Homo sapiens: one gene and its partners. The protein of the gene in region 3 interacts with the protein of the main gene of each other region in a pairwise test. Each region holds a gene or a part of one and is shown on either strand. Other genes may lie near its edges.

Evidence for each region. The genes of interacting proteins can lie anywhere in the genome.
Region 1: the proteins of DNAJC5 (region 3) and KHDC4 come close enough for resonance energy transfer, tested with the Homo sapiens proteins (one large-scale study listed by BioGRID).
Region 2: the proteins of DNAJC5 (region 3) and SCAMP1 come close enough for resonance energy transfer, tested with the Homo sapiens proteins (one study listed by BioGRID).
Region 4: the proteins of DNAJC5 (region 3) and SLC17A8 come close enough for resonance energy transfer, tested with the Homo sapiens proteins (one large-scale study listed by BioGRID).

What each region holds. Positions count from the first base shown.
Region 1 is NC_000001.11:155,920,914-155,924,413, forward strand, and holds part of KHDC4 (KH homology domain-containing protein 4), read right to left. Parts: intron 2,775-3,500; coding exon 2,714-2,774; intron 1,006-2,713; coding exon 948-1,005; intron 716-947; coding exon 462-715; intron 1-461.
Region 2 is NC_000005.10:78,363,617-78,367,116, forward strand, and holds part of SCAMP1 (secretory carrier-associated membrane protein 1), read left to right. Parts: intron 1-3,500. UniProt on the Homo sapiens protein: Functions in post-Golgi recycling pathways. Acts as a recycling carrier to the cell surface.
Region 3 is NC_000020.11:63,901,091-63,906,017, reverse strand, and holds part of DNAJC5 (dnaJ homolog subfamily C member 5), read right to left. Parts: intron 1-4,927. UniProt on the Homo sapiens protein: Acts as a general chaperone in regulated exocytosis. Acts as a co-chaperone for the SNARE protein SNAP-25. Involved in the calcium-mediated control of a late stage of exocytosis. May have an important role in presynaptic function.
Region 4 is NC_000012.12:100,355,792-100,359,873, forward strand, and holds the start of SLC17A8 (vesicular glutamate transporter 3), read left to right. Parts: upstream 1-1,282; 5' UTR 1,283-1,600; coding exon 1,601-1,701; intron 1,702-4,082. UniProt on the Homo sapiens protein: Multifunctional transporter that transports L-glutamate as well as multiple ions such as chloride, sodium and phosphate.

The sequences.
Region 1 (3,500 bases), on a different chromosome or scaffold from region 3:
GCAAACAATGGCCAAGGGTATGGCAAACTATGACTGTGGCCTGCCACCTGTTTTGTAAATAAAGTTCTACTGGAGTACAACAGCTATGCTTATTCATTGAGGTATTATCCACGGGCTGCTTCTGCACTACAACCACCGAGTGTGATAGTTGTGACAGAGAATGTATGGCCCTTAAAGCCTAAAATATTTGCCATCTGACCCTTTATAGCAAGTGTGCCCACCATCCCCACTTTAAACAGCTATTTGGTGTGCAAGACTTGTGAAAATATAAACTTCAGGATGACATACACACATACACACTAATCCAAAATATTCAGGTAGGTTGGTGGTAGGAACACAGAAGACAGCAGGAAAAAGACATTCCACATCACATGATTTATTTCTGGAATACCACTACTTCCCCTCTTTCCCCAGTTTTTCCTAAATTCAGTAATATGTTGTTGCATATCCTGACATCCTACCTGTCCAGTGCTAGCTGGAGGCTGCACTTGTGTTATCGGGTATTGTGTTGGCACAGGTGGGACTCCAGTAGGTAATGCCGGCAAGACTCCAGGTGCTAATGAAACAGCTGGTGGCACTATGCTTGGTACTCCGTAGGGAGGTTGAACTGGCTGCTGAGGAGGGGGAACAACAGGGTAACCAGACTGATAGCCATTGGATGGATAATATGGTGGTTGAGGAGGGACACTACTTATAGCAGAGGGTTGTGTATAGCCTGAGGGGGAAGAAAAAAAGTGTTTAATCAGCTGCAGCAGAATGAGACAATTTAGCTGAATATTAAACTTAATATCTAGGGAAGAAAAATACTGAGGCATGAATGGCTTTCCAAATTACCCTAAATTAAAGGGAACATTAATAGTGCCCTGGCACAGTCTAGCCTCAAGTATCATAGTTACACATAACTATCACTAGCAAAATATTTTTTAAACACTTCAAGATGTACACACCTGGTAAAGGTACAGCAGTATTAATCTGATTCACAAATCTAGAGTATTCAGCATGAACCTGAAAGAGAGGGGGAAACAAATTAACATGGGACAGCCGAAGCTGTGCATTTACAAGGGTCTGATTACATAATTCTAGGACCAAAGCCATTAGGAATTAAAATATATCTACCAATGTTCCAATCAAATTTAAACTTGTTTAACCCACATTTTTTTTTTTTTTTGAGACAGTCTTGCTCTGTCACCCAGGCTGGAGTGCAGTGGCGCGATCTTGTATCACTGCAAATCTTTTTTTTTTTTTTTTTTTTGAGACAGTCTCACTCTGTCACCCAGGGTACAATGCAATGGCATGGTCTCAGCTCACTGCAACCTCCACCTTCACGGTTTAAGCGATTCTCCTGCTTCAGCCTCCCAAGTAGCTGGGACTACAGGCGCGTGCCACCGCACCCAGCTAGTTTTTGTATTTTTAGTAGAGACGGGGGTTTCACGATGTTGGCCAGGCTGGTCTCGAACTCCTGACCTCATTATCTGCCCGCCTTGGCCTCCCAAAGGGCTGGGATTACAGGCATGAGCCACCGTGTCCAACCCACCTCAACATTTTAATAAGGCAAATCTATAAATTATTAAGCCAATTTTGGGAATTAGGAGAATAATCCTGAATCCCCTAAACCATACTCAATTCTGGGGTACAGAATCATTTAGAAAGCCACAGAAATTAAGTAACTAGGAAATTTCCAAGTTGTTAGTATAACTGGTGAGACCTCAATTCATTCACATTTACTGGGTGACTTTTCCTCAAGGAGCTCACATTTAGTAAGGGTTTCGTATTTTCCTCATACTTCCTTCCTATATATTATTAAGTCCATAACCTCAAGTACCAACAAAGATGGGAAATAGTCAAGAAAATTATCCGGTACAAGGGTTGGTAAATCAGGTGCTATGTACAAAAGTAAAAAAACAAACAAAAAAACCAACCATGAGCTACCCAATAAGGCACCAGAGAACACAAGGTTGAACATATTCAGTGCAAAACCTGATTTCCTCTAAGTGCTATAAAGACAGTCCTGGCCGGGCGCGGTGGCTCACGCCTGTAATCCCAGCACTTTGGGAGGCCGAGGCAGGCGGATCACGAGGTCAGGAGATCGAGACCATCCCGGCTAAAACGGTGAAACCCCGTCTCTACTAAAAATACAAAAAAGTAGCCGGGCGTAGTGGCGGGCGCCTGTAGTCCCAGCTACTTGGGAGGCTGAGGCAGGAGAATGGCGTGAACCCGGGAGGCGGAGCTTGCAGTGAGCCGAGATCCCGCCACTGCACTCCAGCCTGGGCGACAGAAAAAAAAAAAAAAGACAGTCCTAAGGTTTAACTTTTGGTTGTTTATAGAATAAAAAGAATGCATAATCAAATGAGCAATCATCCCCCAAACATGTCTAACTGGTTTTAAATTATTATAGTTCTACCCTTACTTCAGACTGGAGTTATGCTAATACAAGCCAAAGAAAACCAACACAATGACCAGGTGCTAGGAGAGAGGAAAGGCATGGGATGATTTCTCTCTCAAAGACTCCAGAAGGAACCAATTCTGCCAGCACCTTGATTTCAGACTCTGCTTCCTGGACTGTGATAGAATAAATTTGTGTTATTTTAAGCCACCCAACTGCCATAACTTGTTATAGCAGTACTAGGAAACTAAACAGGTGAAAGAAACAGCTAAGACATACTCCAAAATGGCAATTGCTCTTCTGAATGAGTATCAGACAAATACAACTCACTGTTTGCAAAAGATTCTCACAAAGCTTCTTGGCAGCAGCCAGGCCTTCTGGTTTGGGGTGACTGCAAAGAAATAACCAGGAATTCAAAGGAGAGAAAAATAAATAAAAGATGCAGAATTCTGCTTTCATTTTCCATGCTATTTTACATATCTACATTAATACATTCACTGTAGCTCAAATCTAGGCCTCTGAAAATCACAAAACAGAAACACAAAACATAAGTCTTTTAAGATATAACCACTATCATTACCACAAATATTTTATTAGTCTTTCTCTGAGTAATGGTACTTCTCGATATAAAAATGTTTAAAGTTCATAAAATTACTATAAAACGTATTAATATTGACATAGGTTTAAATGAAAATTATTTCAGACTTATCACAGCTCACTTTAAGATTTGCTTTTTTTTGGCCGGGCGTGGTGGTTCACGCCTGTAATCCCAGCACTTTGGGAGACCGAGACAGGCGGATCACGAGGTCAGGAGATCGAGACCATCCTGGCTAACACGGTGAAACCCCATCTCTACTAAAAATACAAAAAATTAGCCGGGCATGTTGGCGGGTGCCTATAGTCCCAGCTACTTGGGACGCTGAGGCAGGAGGCGACAGAATCTTGCTCTGTTGCCCAGGCTGGAGTGCAGTGGCGCGATCTCAGCTCACTGCAAGCTCCACCTCCTGGGTTCACGTCATTCTCCTGCCTCAGCCCCCGAGTTGCTGGCACTACAGGCGCCTGCCACCATGCCTGGCTAATTTTTTTGTTTTATTTTTAGTAGAAACGGGATTTCACT
Region 2 (3,500 bases), on a different chromosome or scaffold from region 3:
CTATTTGTTTTCCATTGCCTTTTTCATTTTTTAGCATTTCTTTTCCTTCACTTTTATGTTAGGAATACTTCTGCAAGCATCTTCGTTTGTGCCGTATCATGAAAGTAGTTTGAGTCTATTCTCCTTATATAATATAACCATAGTGGTTTACTTGATTTTATTGGTTCTTGTAAGGCTATTTGCTGGATTCAGTTCATTTTTTTTTGTTGAGCCCCTGCTTTATATTCTAGTGGTTTTCCTAGGCTTAGTGAATGGTTTTATGAAATTTGAATGGCTTTCATTGCGCATCAAGAAACTTGGAATAACTGGAAATCTGTAGTGATCGAAAAGAAAATAGGTGATTAATTATATAGAAGTTTCTGAGGATCCACTCTTGAGCTGTTAAAATGGGGTTTTAAAGCTATAGAGGGAAAAATATTTTCTGTATAGTCAACATGTAATTATTGAAGAATTGCTGTATGTCCTTTGTTTTCTGTTGAGTTTATTCATTCAACAAATACTGAAGAAGTGTCTCTGTCCTTATGGCTATTAGTCTAACAGTGAGACAAATATGCTTGGAAAATGAATGAAAGGGGAGAGTTTAATAACCAGCAGAGGTCAGCAATATAGGCTCTTACAAGTCAGCATAAGAGTGTATGGTTAAGTGCCGGAACAAGTGCAGTTTGTTCATAAAAGGAAGAAATTAGTAAGTGGTCAGAAAATTTTCATGCTTTATGCTTTTGCATATTAACATGATAATTGATTGAATAAGATAGTTCATTATGGAAATAACATTTAAATTAATTTTTAAAATATGAAGAGAATTAGAATTTCACAGCTGGGGGGGCAAATTCTTAAAATATATTCAGTCAGATCTCATAGATTAAAAAACAAAGCCCACAGAGGCACACTTGCTCATTGTCTTGTGCCCATGTGTAGGTAGTGTAGAATTGGCATTAGAACTTAGGTCTCCTGATTTCTAGTCCATTACTGGTGACACTGTATGTGCTCCCTGGTTGCATTTTGATACCAAAATTCTTGTTTTGTATTTGGAGGTTAGAGTTGAGGGGAGGCAGCAGAGGATAGGATTAAAAAATTTTGGCTCAAGAATTTGAAAAGATCTGGGCTTGATCCTGGCTTTGACACTAACTGGTTGTGAGACCTTGGAAAGTTACTTAACCTCTTTCAGACTCAGTTTACTCATCGCGTGTTCTCACTCATAGGTGGGAATTGAATAATGAGAACACTTGGACACAGGGTGGGGAACATCACACACCGGGGTCTGTCATGGGGTGGGGGGAGGGGAGAAGGATAGGAGATATACCTAATGTAAATGACGAGTTAATGGGTGCAGCACACCAACATGGCACATGTATACATATGTAACCTGTACGTTGTGCACATGTACCCTAGAAGTATTAAAAAAGAAAGACTCAGTTTACTATTTTGTAAAATAGGGTAATAGTACATTCTCTATAGGATTGTAAATAGGATTAGATGAACATACATTTAGCATATAGTAAGAGCTTAATGTATAGTGGTTTTAATTAGGTACTAATATTTAGTATTAATAGTAATTTAAGAAATTCTGTTTAATGGCCAGGCGCAGTGGCTCACGCCTGTAATCCCAGCACTTTGGGAGGCTGAGGCGGGCGAATCACGAGGTCAGGAGTTCGAGACCAGCCTGGCCAACATGGTGAAACCCCGTCTCTACCAAAAACACAAAAAATTAGCTTGGCGTGGTGGCGGGCACCTGTAATCCCAGCTACTTGGGAGGCTGAGGCAGGAGAATTGCTTGAACCTGGGAGGTGGAGGTTGCAGTGAGCTGAGATGGCACCACTGCACTCCAGCCTGGGCGACAGTGCGAGACTCATCTCAAAAAAAAAAAAAAAAAAAAAAAAAAGTTCTGTTTAATAATCTCTATATGCTTAGCTATGAATTTAGTGAAATTTATGTTACTTTTGGATCTTCTGGAGTGCTGGTAGTAGCTGTTTGACTGATCATAGTCAAGGAATCAAAGCTAAAAATAATTAAGTGCTTTGCCTACATCAACCTGCTAGACTAGACCAAGGTTGTCTGAATTCTGGTGCTTTTTCACAACACGTAGTTCCTCCCTAATAAAATATCTCCATGTTAAAATTGAGCATAGTGTCCATTTTGTTTTGGCCTCAAAAATTAATTTTAGTCTATTGAAATTTTTTTTAGAAATGGCCTAAAATTCAGCATTCTCACTTATGTTATCTTTTAAGTTACAGTAATCTGGTGGCATTGTAAGAGTTGAAATTTAAAATTGAAAATGACCCATAATTCAAGTGTGTTATTCATTTGTCTTAGTCTGTTTGGGCTGCTGTAACAAAGTATAGTACCTCACAGTGGGTAATTTATAAACAACAGAAATTTATTGCCCAGAACTCTGGAGGCTAGGAAGTCCAAGATCAAGGTCCCAGCAGATTCAGTGTATGGTGAGTCCTTTTCCTCATTGATGGCATCTTCTTTGTGTCCTCACATGGCAGAAGGGGATGGCAGCTCTTTGGGGCCCTTTTCTTTTCTTTTCTTTTTTTTTTTTGAGACGGAGTCTTGCTCTGTCGCCCAGGCTGGAGTGCAGGGGTGCCATCTCGGCTCACTGCAACCTCCATCTCCTGGGTTCAAGCGATTCCCCTACCTCAGCCTCCCGAGTAGCTGGGATTATAGGTGCATGCCACCATGCCCAGCTAATTTTTGTATTTTTAGTAGAGACGGAGTTTCACTATGTTGGCCAGGCTGGCCTTGAACTCTTGGCCTCAAGTGATCCACCTGCCTCAGCCTTCCAGAGTGCTGGGATTACAGGTGTATGCCACCACACTTGGCCTCTGGGTCCTTTTTTTAATAGGGATATTAATCCCATTCTTGAGAGCAGAGCCCTGCTGACCTAGTCACCTCACAAAGTCTTCACCTTCTGATACCATCACGTTGGTGATAGGTTTCAGCATGTGATTTTTAAGGAAACAAACGTTCAGACCTTAGTTTTCATTTTGTAACATCAAGAATGTTATCCATCTTATTTCATTTACCTTGACAATGATACTTACAAGTTGATTTCACTCCTCCCTTATCTGTTTAAAATTTTGAGGCTGAGCTTGATAGCTCATGCTTGTAATCCCAGTGCTTTGGGAAGCCAAGGCAGGAGGATTGCTTGAACCCAAGAGTTTGAGACCAGCCTGGGCAACATAGTGAGACTTCCATCTCTACTAAAATTTAAAAGTTAGCTGGGTGTGGTGGTGCACACCTGTAATCTAAGCTACTTGGGAGGCTGAGGCGGGAGGGTGACAGAGTGAGACCCTGTCTCAAAAAAAAAAAAAAAAACCCAAAAAACAAACAAAAAAAAGATATAAAATTTTGAGTTTGGAGATTGGATAGCACTAGGAAAGTATTCTGAGGATTTCCTTTGTGATTGTCACATTTTGAAAACTGTCTTTTAACATTAATCTGGAACATAGTGGTTGCAGTTTGTGGGCCTGTGTTATTTTACGTTCATGTCAACT
Region 3 (4,927 bases):
GCTCACGCCTGTAATCCCAGCACTTTGGGAGGCTGAGGCGGATCACCTGAGGTCAGTGAGTTCAAGACCAGCCTGGCCAACATGGTGAAACCCCGTCTCTACTAAAAATATAAAAATTAGCCAGGTGAGGTGGCACGTGCCTGTAATCCCAGCTACTCGGGAGGCTGAGGCAGGAGAATCGCTTGAACCCAGGAGGCGGAGGTTGCAGTGAGCCAAGATGGTGCCATTGCACTCCAGTCTGGGTGACAGAGCAAGACTTTGTCTCCAGAAAAAAAAAAAAATTAGCTGGGCAGGGTGGCACGCCCCTATAATCCCAGCTACTCGGGAGGCTGAGGCAGGAGAATTGCTTGAACCCAGGAGGCGGAGGTTGCAGTGAGAGCTGAGATCACATCATTGCACTCCAGCCTGGGTGACAAGAGCCAGACTCCGTGAAAAAAAAAAAAAAAAAATCTGCCATGTGCGGTCATGTGTGGTGGCTCACACCTGTAACCTGAGGTGGGAGGATCACTCGAGCCCAGAGGTGAAGGCTGCAGTGACTGCACCACTGTAAACCAGCCTGGGCAAGAGTGTGAGACCTTGTCTCTTAAAACAAAAAAATCCAGCCCCGGGTGTGGTGGCTCACACCTGCAATCCCAGTACTTTGGAAGGCTGAGGTGGGTCAATCACTTGAGGTCAGGAGGTCGAGATCGGCCTGGCCAACATGGTGAAACCCCATCTCTAGTAAAAATACAAAAATTAGCCGGGCATGGTGGTGCACACCTGCAGTTCCAGCTACTCAGGAGGCTGAGGCAGGAGAGTCACTTGAACCCGGGAAGCAGAGGTTGCAGTGAGCCGAGATCGTGCCATGGCACTCCAGCCTGGGCGACAAGAGCGAGACCCCATCACATACACAAAAGACAGGAAAAAAAAAAAAAAGCCAGGCACGGTGGCTCACCCTATAATCCTGACACTTTGGGAGGCCGAGGCAGGCGGATCACCTGATGTCAGGAGTTCGAGACCAGCCTGGCCAACATGGTGAAACCCCCGTCTAGACTAAAAATACAAAAATTAGCCGGGCGTGGTGGCGGGCACCTGTAATCCCAGCTACTCTGGAGGCTGAGGCAGGAGAATCGCTTGAACCCGAGAGGCAGAGGTTGCAGTGAGCCGAGATCGCGCCGTTGCACTCCAGCCTGGGGTACAACAGCGAGACTTTGTCTCAAGAAAAACAAAAACAAACAAAAAAACCCCCACAGTTTATTAATCTGCCTTATTGTCCTTTGCCTTTTAAAAATATAAGATAAGCCTGTTTAAGGCTTTACTGGGAGGCAGCTGTCAGTCAGCCAGCTGTTCTGGAGTCAGTCCAGGGCAAAGGCTGCTGTAGGAACAGCATTAGCACAACTTTGCCTATTTATCCTTAACCAGAGCAGGTTTACAAGGATGCCTATACCATGAACACCTGCACGCATCTCAGTCCGCCCACCTGGAGGTCAGACACACTAAGAGGCAGCTGGACCAGCTCCCTGTTCAAGGCCACTTCAGATTCTATGTGAGTTACAGTGCCCTTGTCTTAAAGTATTTTCATAAATGTGAATTAAGCAGTGCTCACACCAGGGAGAAGGATGCTGTGAGTCTGTCTGTTGGTCTGCTGGTGACAATCAGTTAGGGTTACCCAACCTGGCGGGATGATGCAAGAGAAAACAGCACCAACAGAAACCACATCGTAAGAGGTAATTTTGGGGAAAAAAGGGTAATTTTGTAAATCCTGTGTTGTCACTTTAACATGTATGATGACATTATTTGTGCTTATTCTTCAATATTATACCTTTATACTCGAGAATCTAAAAAACTGTTTAAGACCCACCCTGCATGGCTGTCCTGGGGATTACGGCTAATGCATATTCGGCAACCTTGTCCCAGAACACCTGTTCAACAAACCACGGTTTGCCTCATTTCAGAGTGTTTTGCTATTTGGACACGGGGTATTCTTTTTCATCCCCCACTGCAACCTCCGCTTCCCAGGCTCCAGGGATCCTCCCACCTCAGCCTGACCTCAGCCTCTCGAGTAGCTGGGACCACAGGCATGCACCACCACGCCCAGCTAACTTTTGTATTTTCTGCAGAGATGGGGTTTCCTCATGTTACCCAGGCTGGTCTCAAATTCCTGAACTCGAGAGATCTATCCACCTCAGCCTCCCAAAGTGTTGGGGTTACAGGTGTCAGCCACTGCACCTGCCCAAATTTTTGTATTTTTAGTAGAGACGTGGTTTCGCCATGTTGGCCAGGCTAGTCTCAAACTCCTGGCCTCATGTAATCTGCTTGCCTTGGCCTCCCAAAGCACTGGGATTACAGGCTTAAACCACTAAGCCTGGCCAAAAATGTTTTTAATTTTTTAAAAATTTCTATACGAAGAGCCTTATTAAAAGTTTGAGATGGGCCGAGCGCAGTGGCTCACACCTGTAATCCCAGCACTTTGGGAGGCCAAGGTGCGCAGACCATGAGGTCAAGAGATCGAGATCATCCTGGCCAACATGGTGAAACCCCGTCTCTACTAAAAAATACAAAAATCAGCCGGGCGTAGTGGCGCATGCCTGTAGTCCCAGCTGCTACAGAGGCTGAGGCAGGAGAATCGCTTGAACCCAGGAGGCGGAGGTTGCAGTGTGCCAAGATCGCACCACTGCTCTCCAGTCTGGTGACAGAGACTCCATCTCAAAAAAGAGAGTTTGAGGTGAGTCAGTGAGGTGGTGCGTGCCTACAATCTCAGTTACTGAGGGTTAGGGTGATTCTAATCTACTGAGACTGTAGGCATGCACCACCTTGGGAGGCTGAGGCAGGAGGATCGAGCCCAGGAAGGCCAACCTGGGCAACATGTGGAGGCCCCATCTCTACAAAAATTAAAACATTAGTCAACTGTGGTGACACATACCTAAAGTCCCAGCTACTTGGGAGGCTGAGATAGGAGGATTGCTTGGGCCTGGGAGAATGCAGTGAGCTAAGACTGTGTCACTCCTCTCTAACTTGGGTGAGAGACAGAGTGACACCCTGTTGTAAAAAAAACAGGATGTGGCAGGGCGCGGTGGCTCACGCCTCTAATCCCAGCACTTTGGGAGGCCGAGGTGGGCAGATCACGAGGTCAGGAGATCGAGACCATCCTGGCTAACACGATGAAATCCCGTCTCTACTAAAAATACAAAAAACATTAGCTGGGCGTGGCGGCGGGTGCCTGTAGTCCCAGCTACTCGGGAGGCTGAGGCAGGAGAATGGCATGAACCCAGGTGGCAGAGCTTGCAGTGAGCCGAGACTGAGTCACTGCACTCCAGCCTGGGCGACAGAGCAAGACTCTGTCTCAAAAAAAAAAAAAAAAAACAAGATGAGGCCAGGTGCGTTGGCTCACGCCTGTAATCCCAGCACTTTGGGAGGCCGAGGTGAGTGGATCACCTGAGGTTGGGAGGTCGAGACCAGCCTGACCAACATGGAGAAACCCCATCTCTACTAAAAATACAAAATTAGCTGGGTGTGGTGGCACACGCCTGTAATCCCAGCTACTCAGGAGGCTGAGGCTGGAGAATCACTTGAACCCAGAAGGCAGAGGTTGCGGTGAGCCAAGATCACACCGTTGCACTCCACCAGCCTGGGAAACAAGAGTGAAACTCCGTCTCAAAAAAAAAAAAAAAAAAAAAAAAGATGAGGCCAGGAGCAGTGGCTCACGCCTGTAATCCCAGCACTTTCGGAGGCCGAGCTGGGCGGATCACAAGGTCAGGAGATCGAGACCATCCTGGCTAACACGGTGAAACCCCATCTCTACTAAAAATACGAAAAATTAGCCGGGCGTGGTGGCGGGCGCCTGTAGTCCCAGCTACTCGGGAGGCTGAGGCAGGGGAATGGCGTGAACCCGGGAGGCGGAGCTTGCAGTGAGCCGAGATCGCGTCACTGCACTCCAGCCTGGGCGACAGCACAAGACTCTGTCCCCCACCCAAAAAAAAAAAGCATTATTATTTTAAAGAACACATCAAGAAAGAACTAACAAAATTTATTGCGACTGGCAAAAATGTAAAATCTCAGATTTTAACAGCTAGTCCTATCGCAGCAGCTAAAAGAACACCAAAGTGCTGTGGTAAAAGGCCCCGCAAGCAAAGGGGAAAGACAGACACCATCTGAGGGCTACGAACTTGGCAAGAGATGACAGAAGCTACAGTCTGTACTCCTGGACCCAGAATTTCCTTCGTTATTTGTCTTAGGGAAACCTTCTTACAATAAAACACAATCCTATTTAATAAAGAAAAATCCGATGGGACTGCTCAGCAAAGATCCAAACATTCGCTCTGCTGCTAATCCCTCCCAATAACAGGAGGAGCAAAATAAAAGCCAGGCAGGGCCGCACACTCCACACACTCCCTCTGCTGAGCTGCAGTCACTCCTCCCGTCAGGCACCTGCAGCCTCGTCCGGGGTAGAGGCCTCTGGCCTGGGCTCGCCTCCACTCTGAGACTGATGTGGAGCGCGCGGACGCAGCCTCTGGCACCTGAATTCAGCTCCTGCTTCTTCAAGGGTCAAGAGTAAGACGGGATATTTTCGTTCTGCAGTTTCACTAGAACACATTTCCACCCTACCTGGTGAAAAAATAGAGGCACAGGGCAGGGAGAGCTCTCCCCGAAGTCAGCCGCGCTCTAGAGACAGCAAGGAGGGCAGGGCACAGCCGATGGGGCTGGGAAGTCGATTCCATCTTCCGACCTGCCAGCATCATGATTTCATAACAGGCACAGAATGCCTCAGAACGCAGATTGAGCACAGTGGCTCATGCCTGTAAACCCAGCACCTTGGGAGGCCAAGGTGGGTTGATTACTTGAGTTCAGGAGTTTGAGACCAGCCTGGACAACATGGTGAAACCCCATCTCTACTAAAAATACAAAAATTAGCTGGGCGTGGTGGCACACGCCTGTAATTCCAGTTACT
Region 4 (4,082 bases), on a different chromosome or scaffold from region 3:
CCAGTTCAACAAGTATTTAGGTAACGCCCACTCCCTGCCAGGCTCTGCTAGGGCAGAGGACAGGTGATTTGGAGGCACAGAGGAGGGACATCTCACCTTGCCCATGCAGTTTTCTAGAGGATTGATATCTTAGCATGACCTTAGAACCCCTAGAAGTTACCCAGTTGAAGGGGTGCAGAGAGTTACCCAGGCAGAGGGCATAGCTTGAGTAAAGCCCAGAGGCAATAGGGAGCTTGCTGAGTTCAGTGAAATGAGGATGTGGAAAGCAGAGTGACAAGAAGAAAGACTTAGGGTCCCAGGGAAAGGCCTTGTGTGCCATGATAAAGAATTGTATTGTAAATAGTGCTGCAATAAACATACGTGTGGATGTGTCTTTGTAGTAGAATGATTAGAATACATGGATACAGAGAGGGGAACATCACACACCGGAGCTGGTCAGGGGTTGGGGGGCAAGGAGAGGGAGAGCATTAGGACAAATACCTAATGCATGTGGGGCTTAAAACCTAGATGATGGGTTGATAGGTGCAGCAAACCACCATGGCACATGTATACCTATGTAACAAACCTGCATGTTCTGCACATGTATCCTGGAACTTAAAGTAAAAAAAAAAAAGTCCATCTAGAGGGAGAAAAGGGGAAAAAACAAAAATAATTTTATTTATCCTGAGGACAATGAGGAGTCAGTGGAGAGTTCTAAGCAGGTTCTAGATATCTTCCGGCTCAGAAATCTTCAATTAGATGGTCCCAAATGGCATCTACGTATCATACTTTGAGAGAGCCTGCTCTGTTGATTAGGAGCAAATAAATGTCCTCCTGGATGTATGTGGCCTGGGTTTTGCATTTGGGCTACTCAAATGCAAGTTCCTCGTGGGACCACATCCATGCTAGTGGCTGGCTGAAAAACGGCTTCATGACTCTCATGAGGGGAATAAAAGGCATGGAGTGGTGGCTGTGAGCCTGTCTGCAGGGCCAGACCTCAGAAAAGCAAAGGGCTGTAAATGTTTCATAAATTTCTCTCTGGGTGCCTGCTCTGGCTGAGAGCCCATTCATAAGCCCAGGCGGCTGAGGGGCAGGTATTGTGCCGGTTACTATAGCATCACCTTGGAAAGTCTCACTTGGTGAGAGCGGCAGGCGAGCTGGGGTGGGGCAGGAGGGGGACGCGGCTGGCTGGAGGGGCTGGAGCTAGGCCACGGATACTGCTGCTGGTCTCAGGACTCCTGGTGGTCCGGAGCTCATGTTAGCGTCCCCAGCTGCAGCCCAGGGAGGGAGAGAGGCTGCGCTCAGTCTGAGAGTGGCTGCCTGAGACAGCTGCCACAGGCTGCTGCAGAGCGTGCAGCTTTTGCAAGGGACTGAATTCCCAGCCAGACACCCCTTGGACTCTTTTTTGGAGGGGTGGGGAGCAGAGAGAGGAGGGAGTTGTCTTATCTTGGAAGATCCGAGCTGGGTTTCATCTCCTTTTTGATTTTGAGTAGTTCCCTCCACGAGAACTGACTTCCAGGTGTTCACCAAGGGAAACAAGGTGGTTCTCACACTGGAAATGAGGAAGGATGACAGTTTTTGAGACTGACTGTTAACGGCTCAGAGGTGCCCCTCATTCAAAATGCCTTTTAAAGCATTTGATACCTTCAAAGAAAAAATTCTGAAACCTGGGAAGGAAGGAGTGAAGAACGCCGTGGGAGATTCTTTGGGAATTTTACAAAGGTAAAGTTTGAATGCGAACTTTAGTTCCTTTCTGAGTAGCTTCGTATTGCCAATGTGTGAGAGACTTGGTATCACGTTTTTAAAACCACACTTTAATGAGGAGAGGATGGGTCAGATTAGATCCTTCTGGAGCCCCTTCTAGCTCCAGTAGTCTATGCCTGGAGGAAAAACAGATGCATGAATAGTATTGGGTTGTATTAGGAAAAGATCAAGACAAATATGCTGTTTATATAGCTGGATTAGCACTTTCTGGAGATGATGATATTGCATATGGTATGTTTGGCATTGAATTAGAAAATATTTAGGGAGATAATATTTTATGTTAACTCATTAGTAATGACAAATATGCCTTGAACTGAAATAATTTTTATGTTTTTCACTGAATCCACTATAAATGAAAATTAAATATTTGCAATTTTTAGCTTATTTAATAAAATACATAAAGTGGTTCCTGATTGTATAGTTTGCAAAGAGAAGGATAGTTACACATTAATTTGAAGGAAGTAACTTAAAAAATGTCTTTGAAGCAGAAAATCTCACATAATTGCAGTGGGAAAATGTTAAGTACTATCACTGAATTGAATGAGATTTTAGTCCAAACCAAAAAGTAAATATTTTTTAAAGTAAAATATATTAATGGAAGGAGAGTTTGCTATAAATGATTGAATTAATGTGACAGTTTAATTTATGAATTTTTATAGACATAGTAAATGCCTTCTCAAATTATATAAATGATTTCATAAGTGGTCCTTATGTGCAAGGTAAAATGACTGCTTTATCTCTCTGATATAAATAAATGTGAAAAATAACTTTGATACACTTTTTATTTGTTTGGATGATTATTTCTAATCCTGGTGAGTGAAAATGCCATCTGGTGTGTCCTTTTAACTTTTCTATTATCTCTTAAATTTAAAAACTTTTTCATTTAAATGACTATTTCCAGGCAATCTGAGATTCATCCCATTTCTTGTGTTTTAAAACACATATGCTCCTGTCAGTGTTAAATTTTCCATGGTATCACTGTTAATATTAACTTTCCTAATAAGAAAAAAGAGTTGGACACCTTATTATTTTAGTAATTAGAAACAAAAAAGCTTCAATCAGACCTACACTGAATTAGCATGTCTAGATGAAAACCTAGCTCAGTGACAGCAGCATAAACCAGCCAAATATAGAAAAAATTACAATAACATTTTTTTCAGAGTGTTTTATCCTTCCGTTGAGCACTCCCCAGGTAACGTCTTATTGTGTTGGCGTTCATTTGATTAGAAACGCAAAAATAATTTTTGCATAATAAGCACGATAGCTTAATTGGCTTATTCAAGTAATGACAAAGGAATCTGGCAAAGTCAAGAATAAAAACCATAGGCCGGGCGCAGTGGCTCACGCCTGTAATCCCAGCACTTTGGGAGGCGGAAGTGGGAGGATCGCTTGAGGCCAGAAGTTCGAGACTAGCCTGGGGAACATAGAGAGACCATGTCTCTACAGAAATACAAAAAATTAGCCAGCATGATGGTGCATGCCTGTCATCTCAGCTTCCCAAGAAGTGGGAGTATTGCTTGAGCCCAGACATTCAAGGTTGCAGCGAGCCAAGATTGCGTCTCTGCACTCCAGCTAGGGTGACAGAGTCAGACTCTGTCTCAAAAAATAAAAAAATAAAATAAATTTAAAAACCTATGACGTTGGGCCATAGTCACCATTATAAACAGCAAACTCTGCCTTCATTTATAAAATATTTGATATAAAAATACTTAGGAATTTTCTTTTCAACCTTAAGTTTAATTGCTTTTTGTGAAATTTGATTGCTTTTTTCAATAGGAATTATTGATCGAAGAGCCGGTTTTGCTATGTTTGATTGGAGGAGCTACATGGAGATCTTTTTGTTTACAAAATTGATTTGCTTAGGGATATAACAAAATTGGCGATTTTCCAAATTGTGTGACCTCAACCAGAAATTGGGCTATGTGTCTAGGACTGTTTGAATAGTTTCCTCAGAACAATAGAAAAACAGCTAGCACAGTACTAGGGACAGAGAATGCACTAAACAAATGCTAGATATTGTCATGGTTGTCCTAATTGTAGAATGGCTTTAGAAAAAATAAAGCCAAGGTCAAATCCCTTTTTTCAGTGATCTATAGAGAGAAATTATTGGCAGAAGAAACGAAAACAGACATTGCTTGAGCGGTGATCCAAGTTGATCCTCAGTTCTAGTGAGGAATTATCAAGACCAGCTCTGCCACGTGTTTGGCATTAATCACAGGTGTATAAGGTAATTGTATGTAAATGACCCTGCCCAGAGCCTGGCACATACTGGGCATTTCCCTCTCATTTCACTGCTTTTCACGTAAAACCAGTTGACAGAATCCCATGTAAAAAAATCA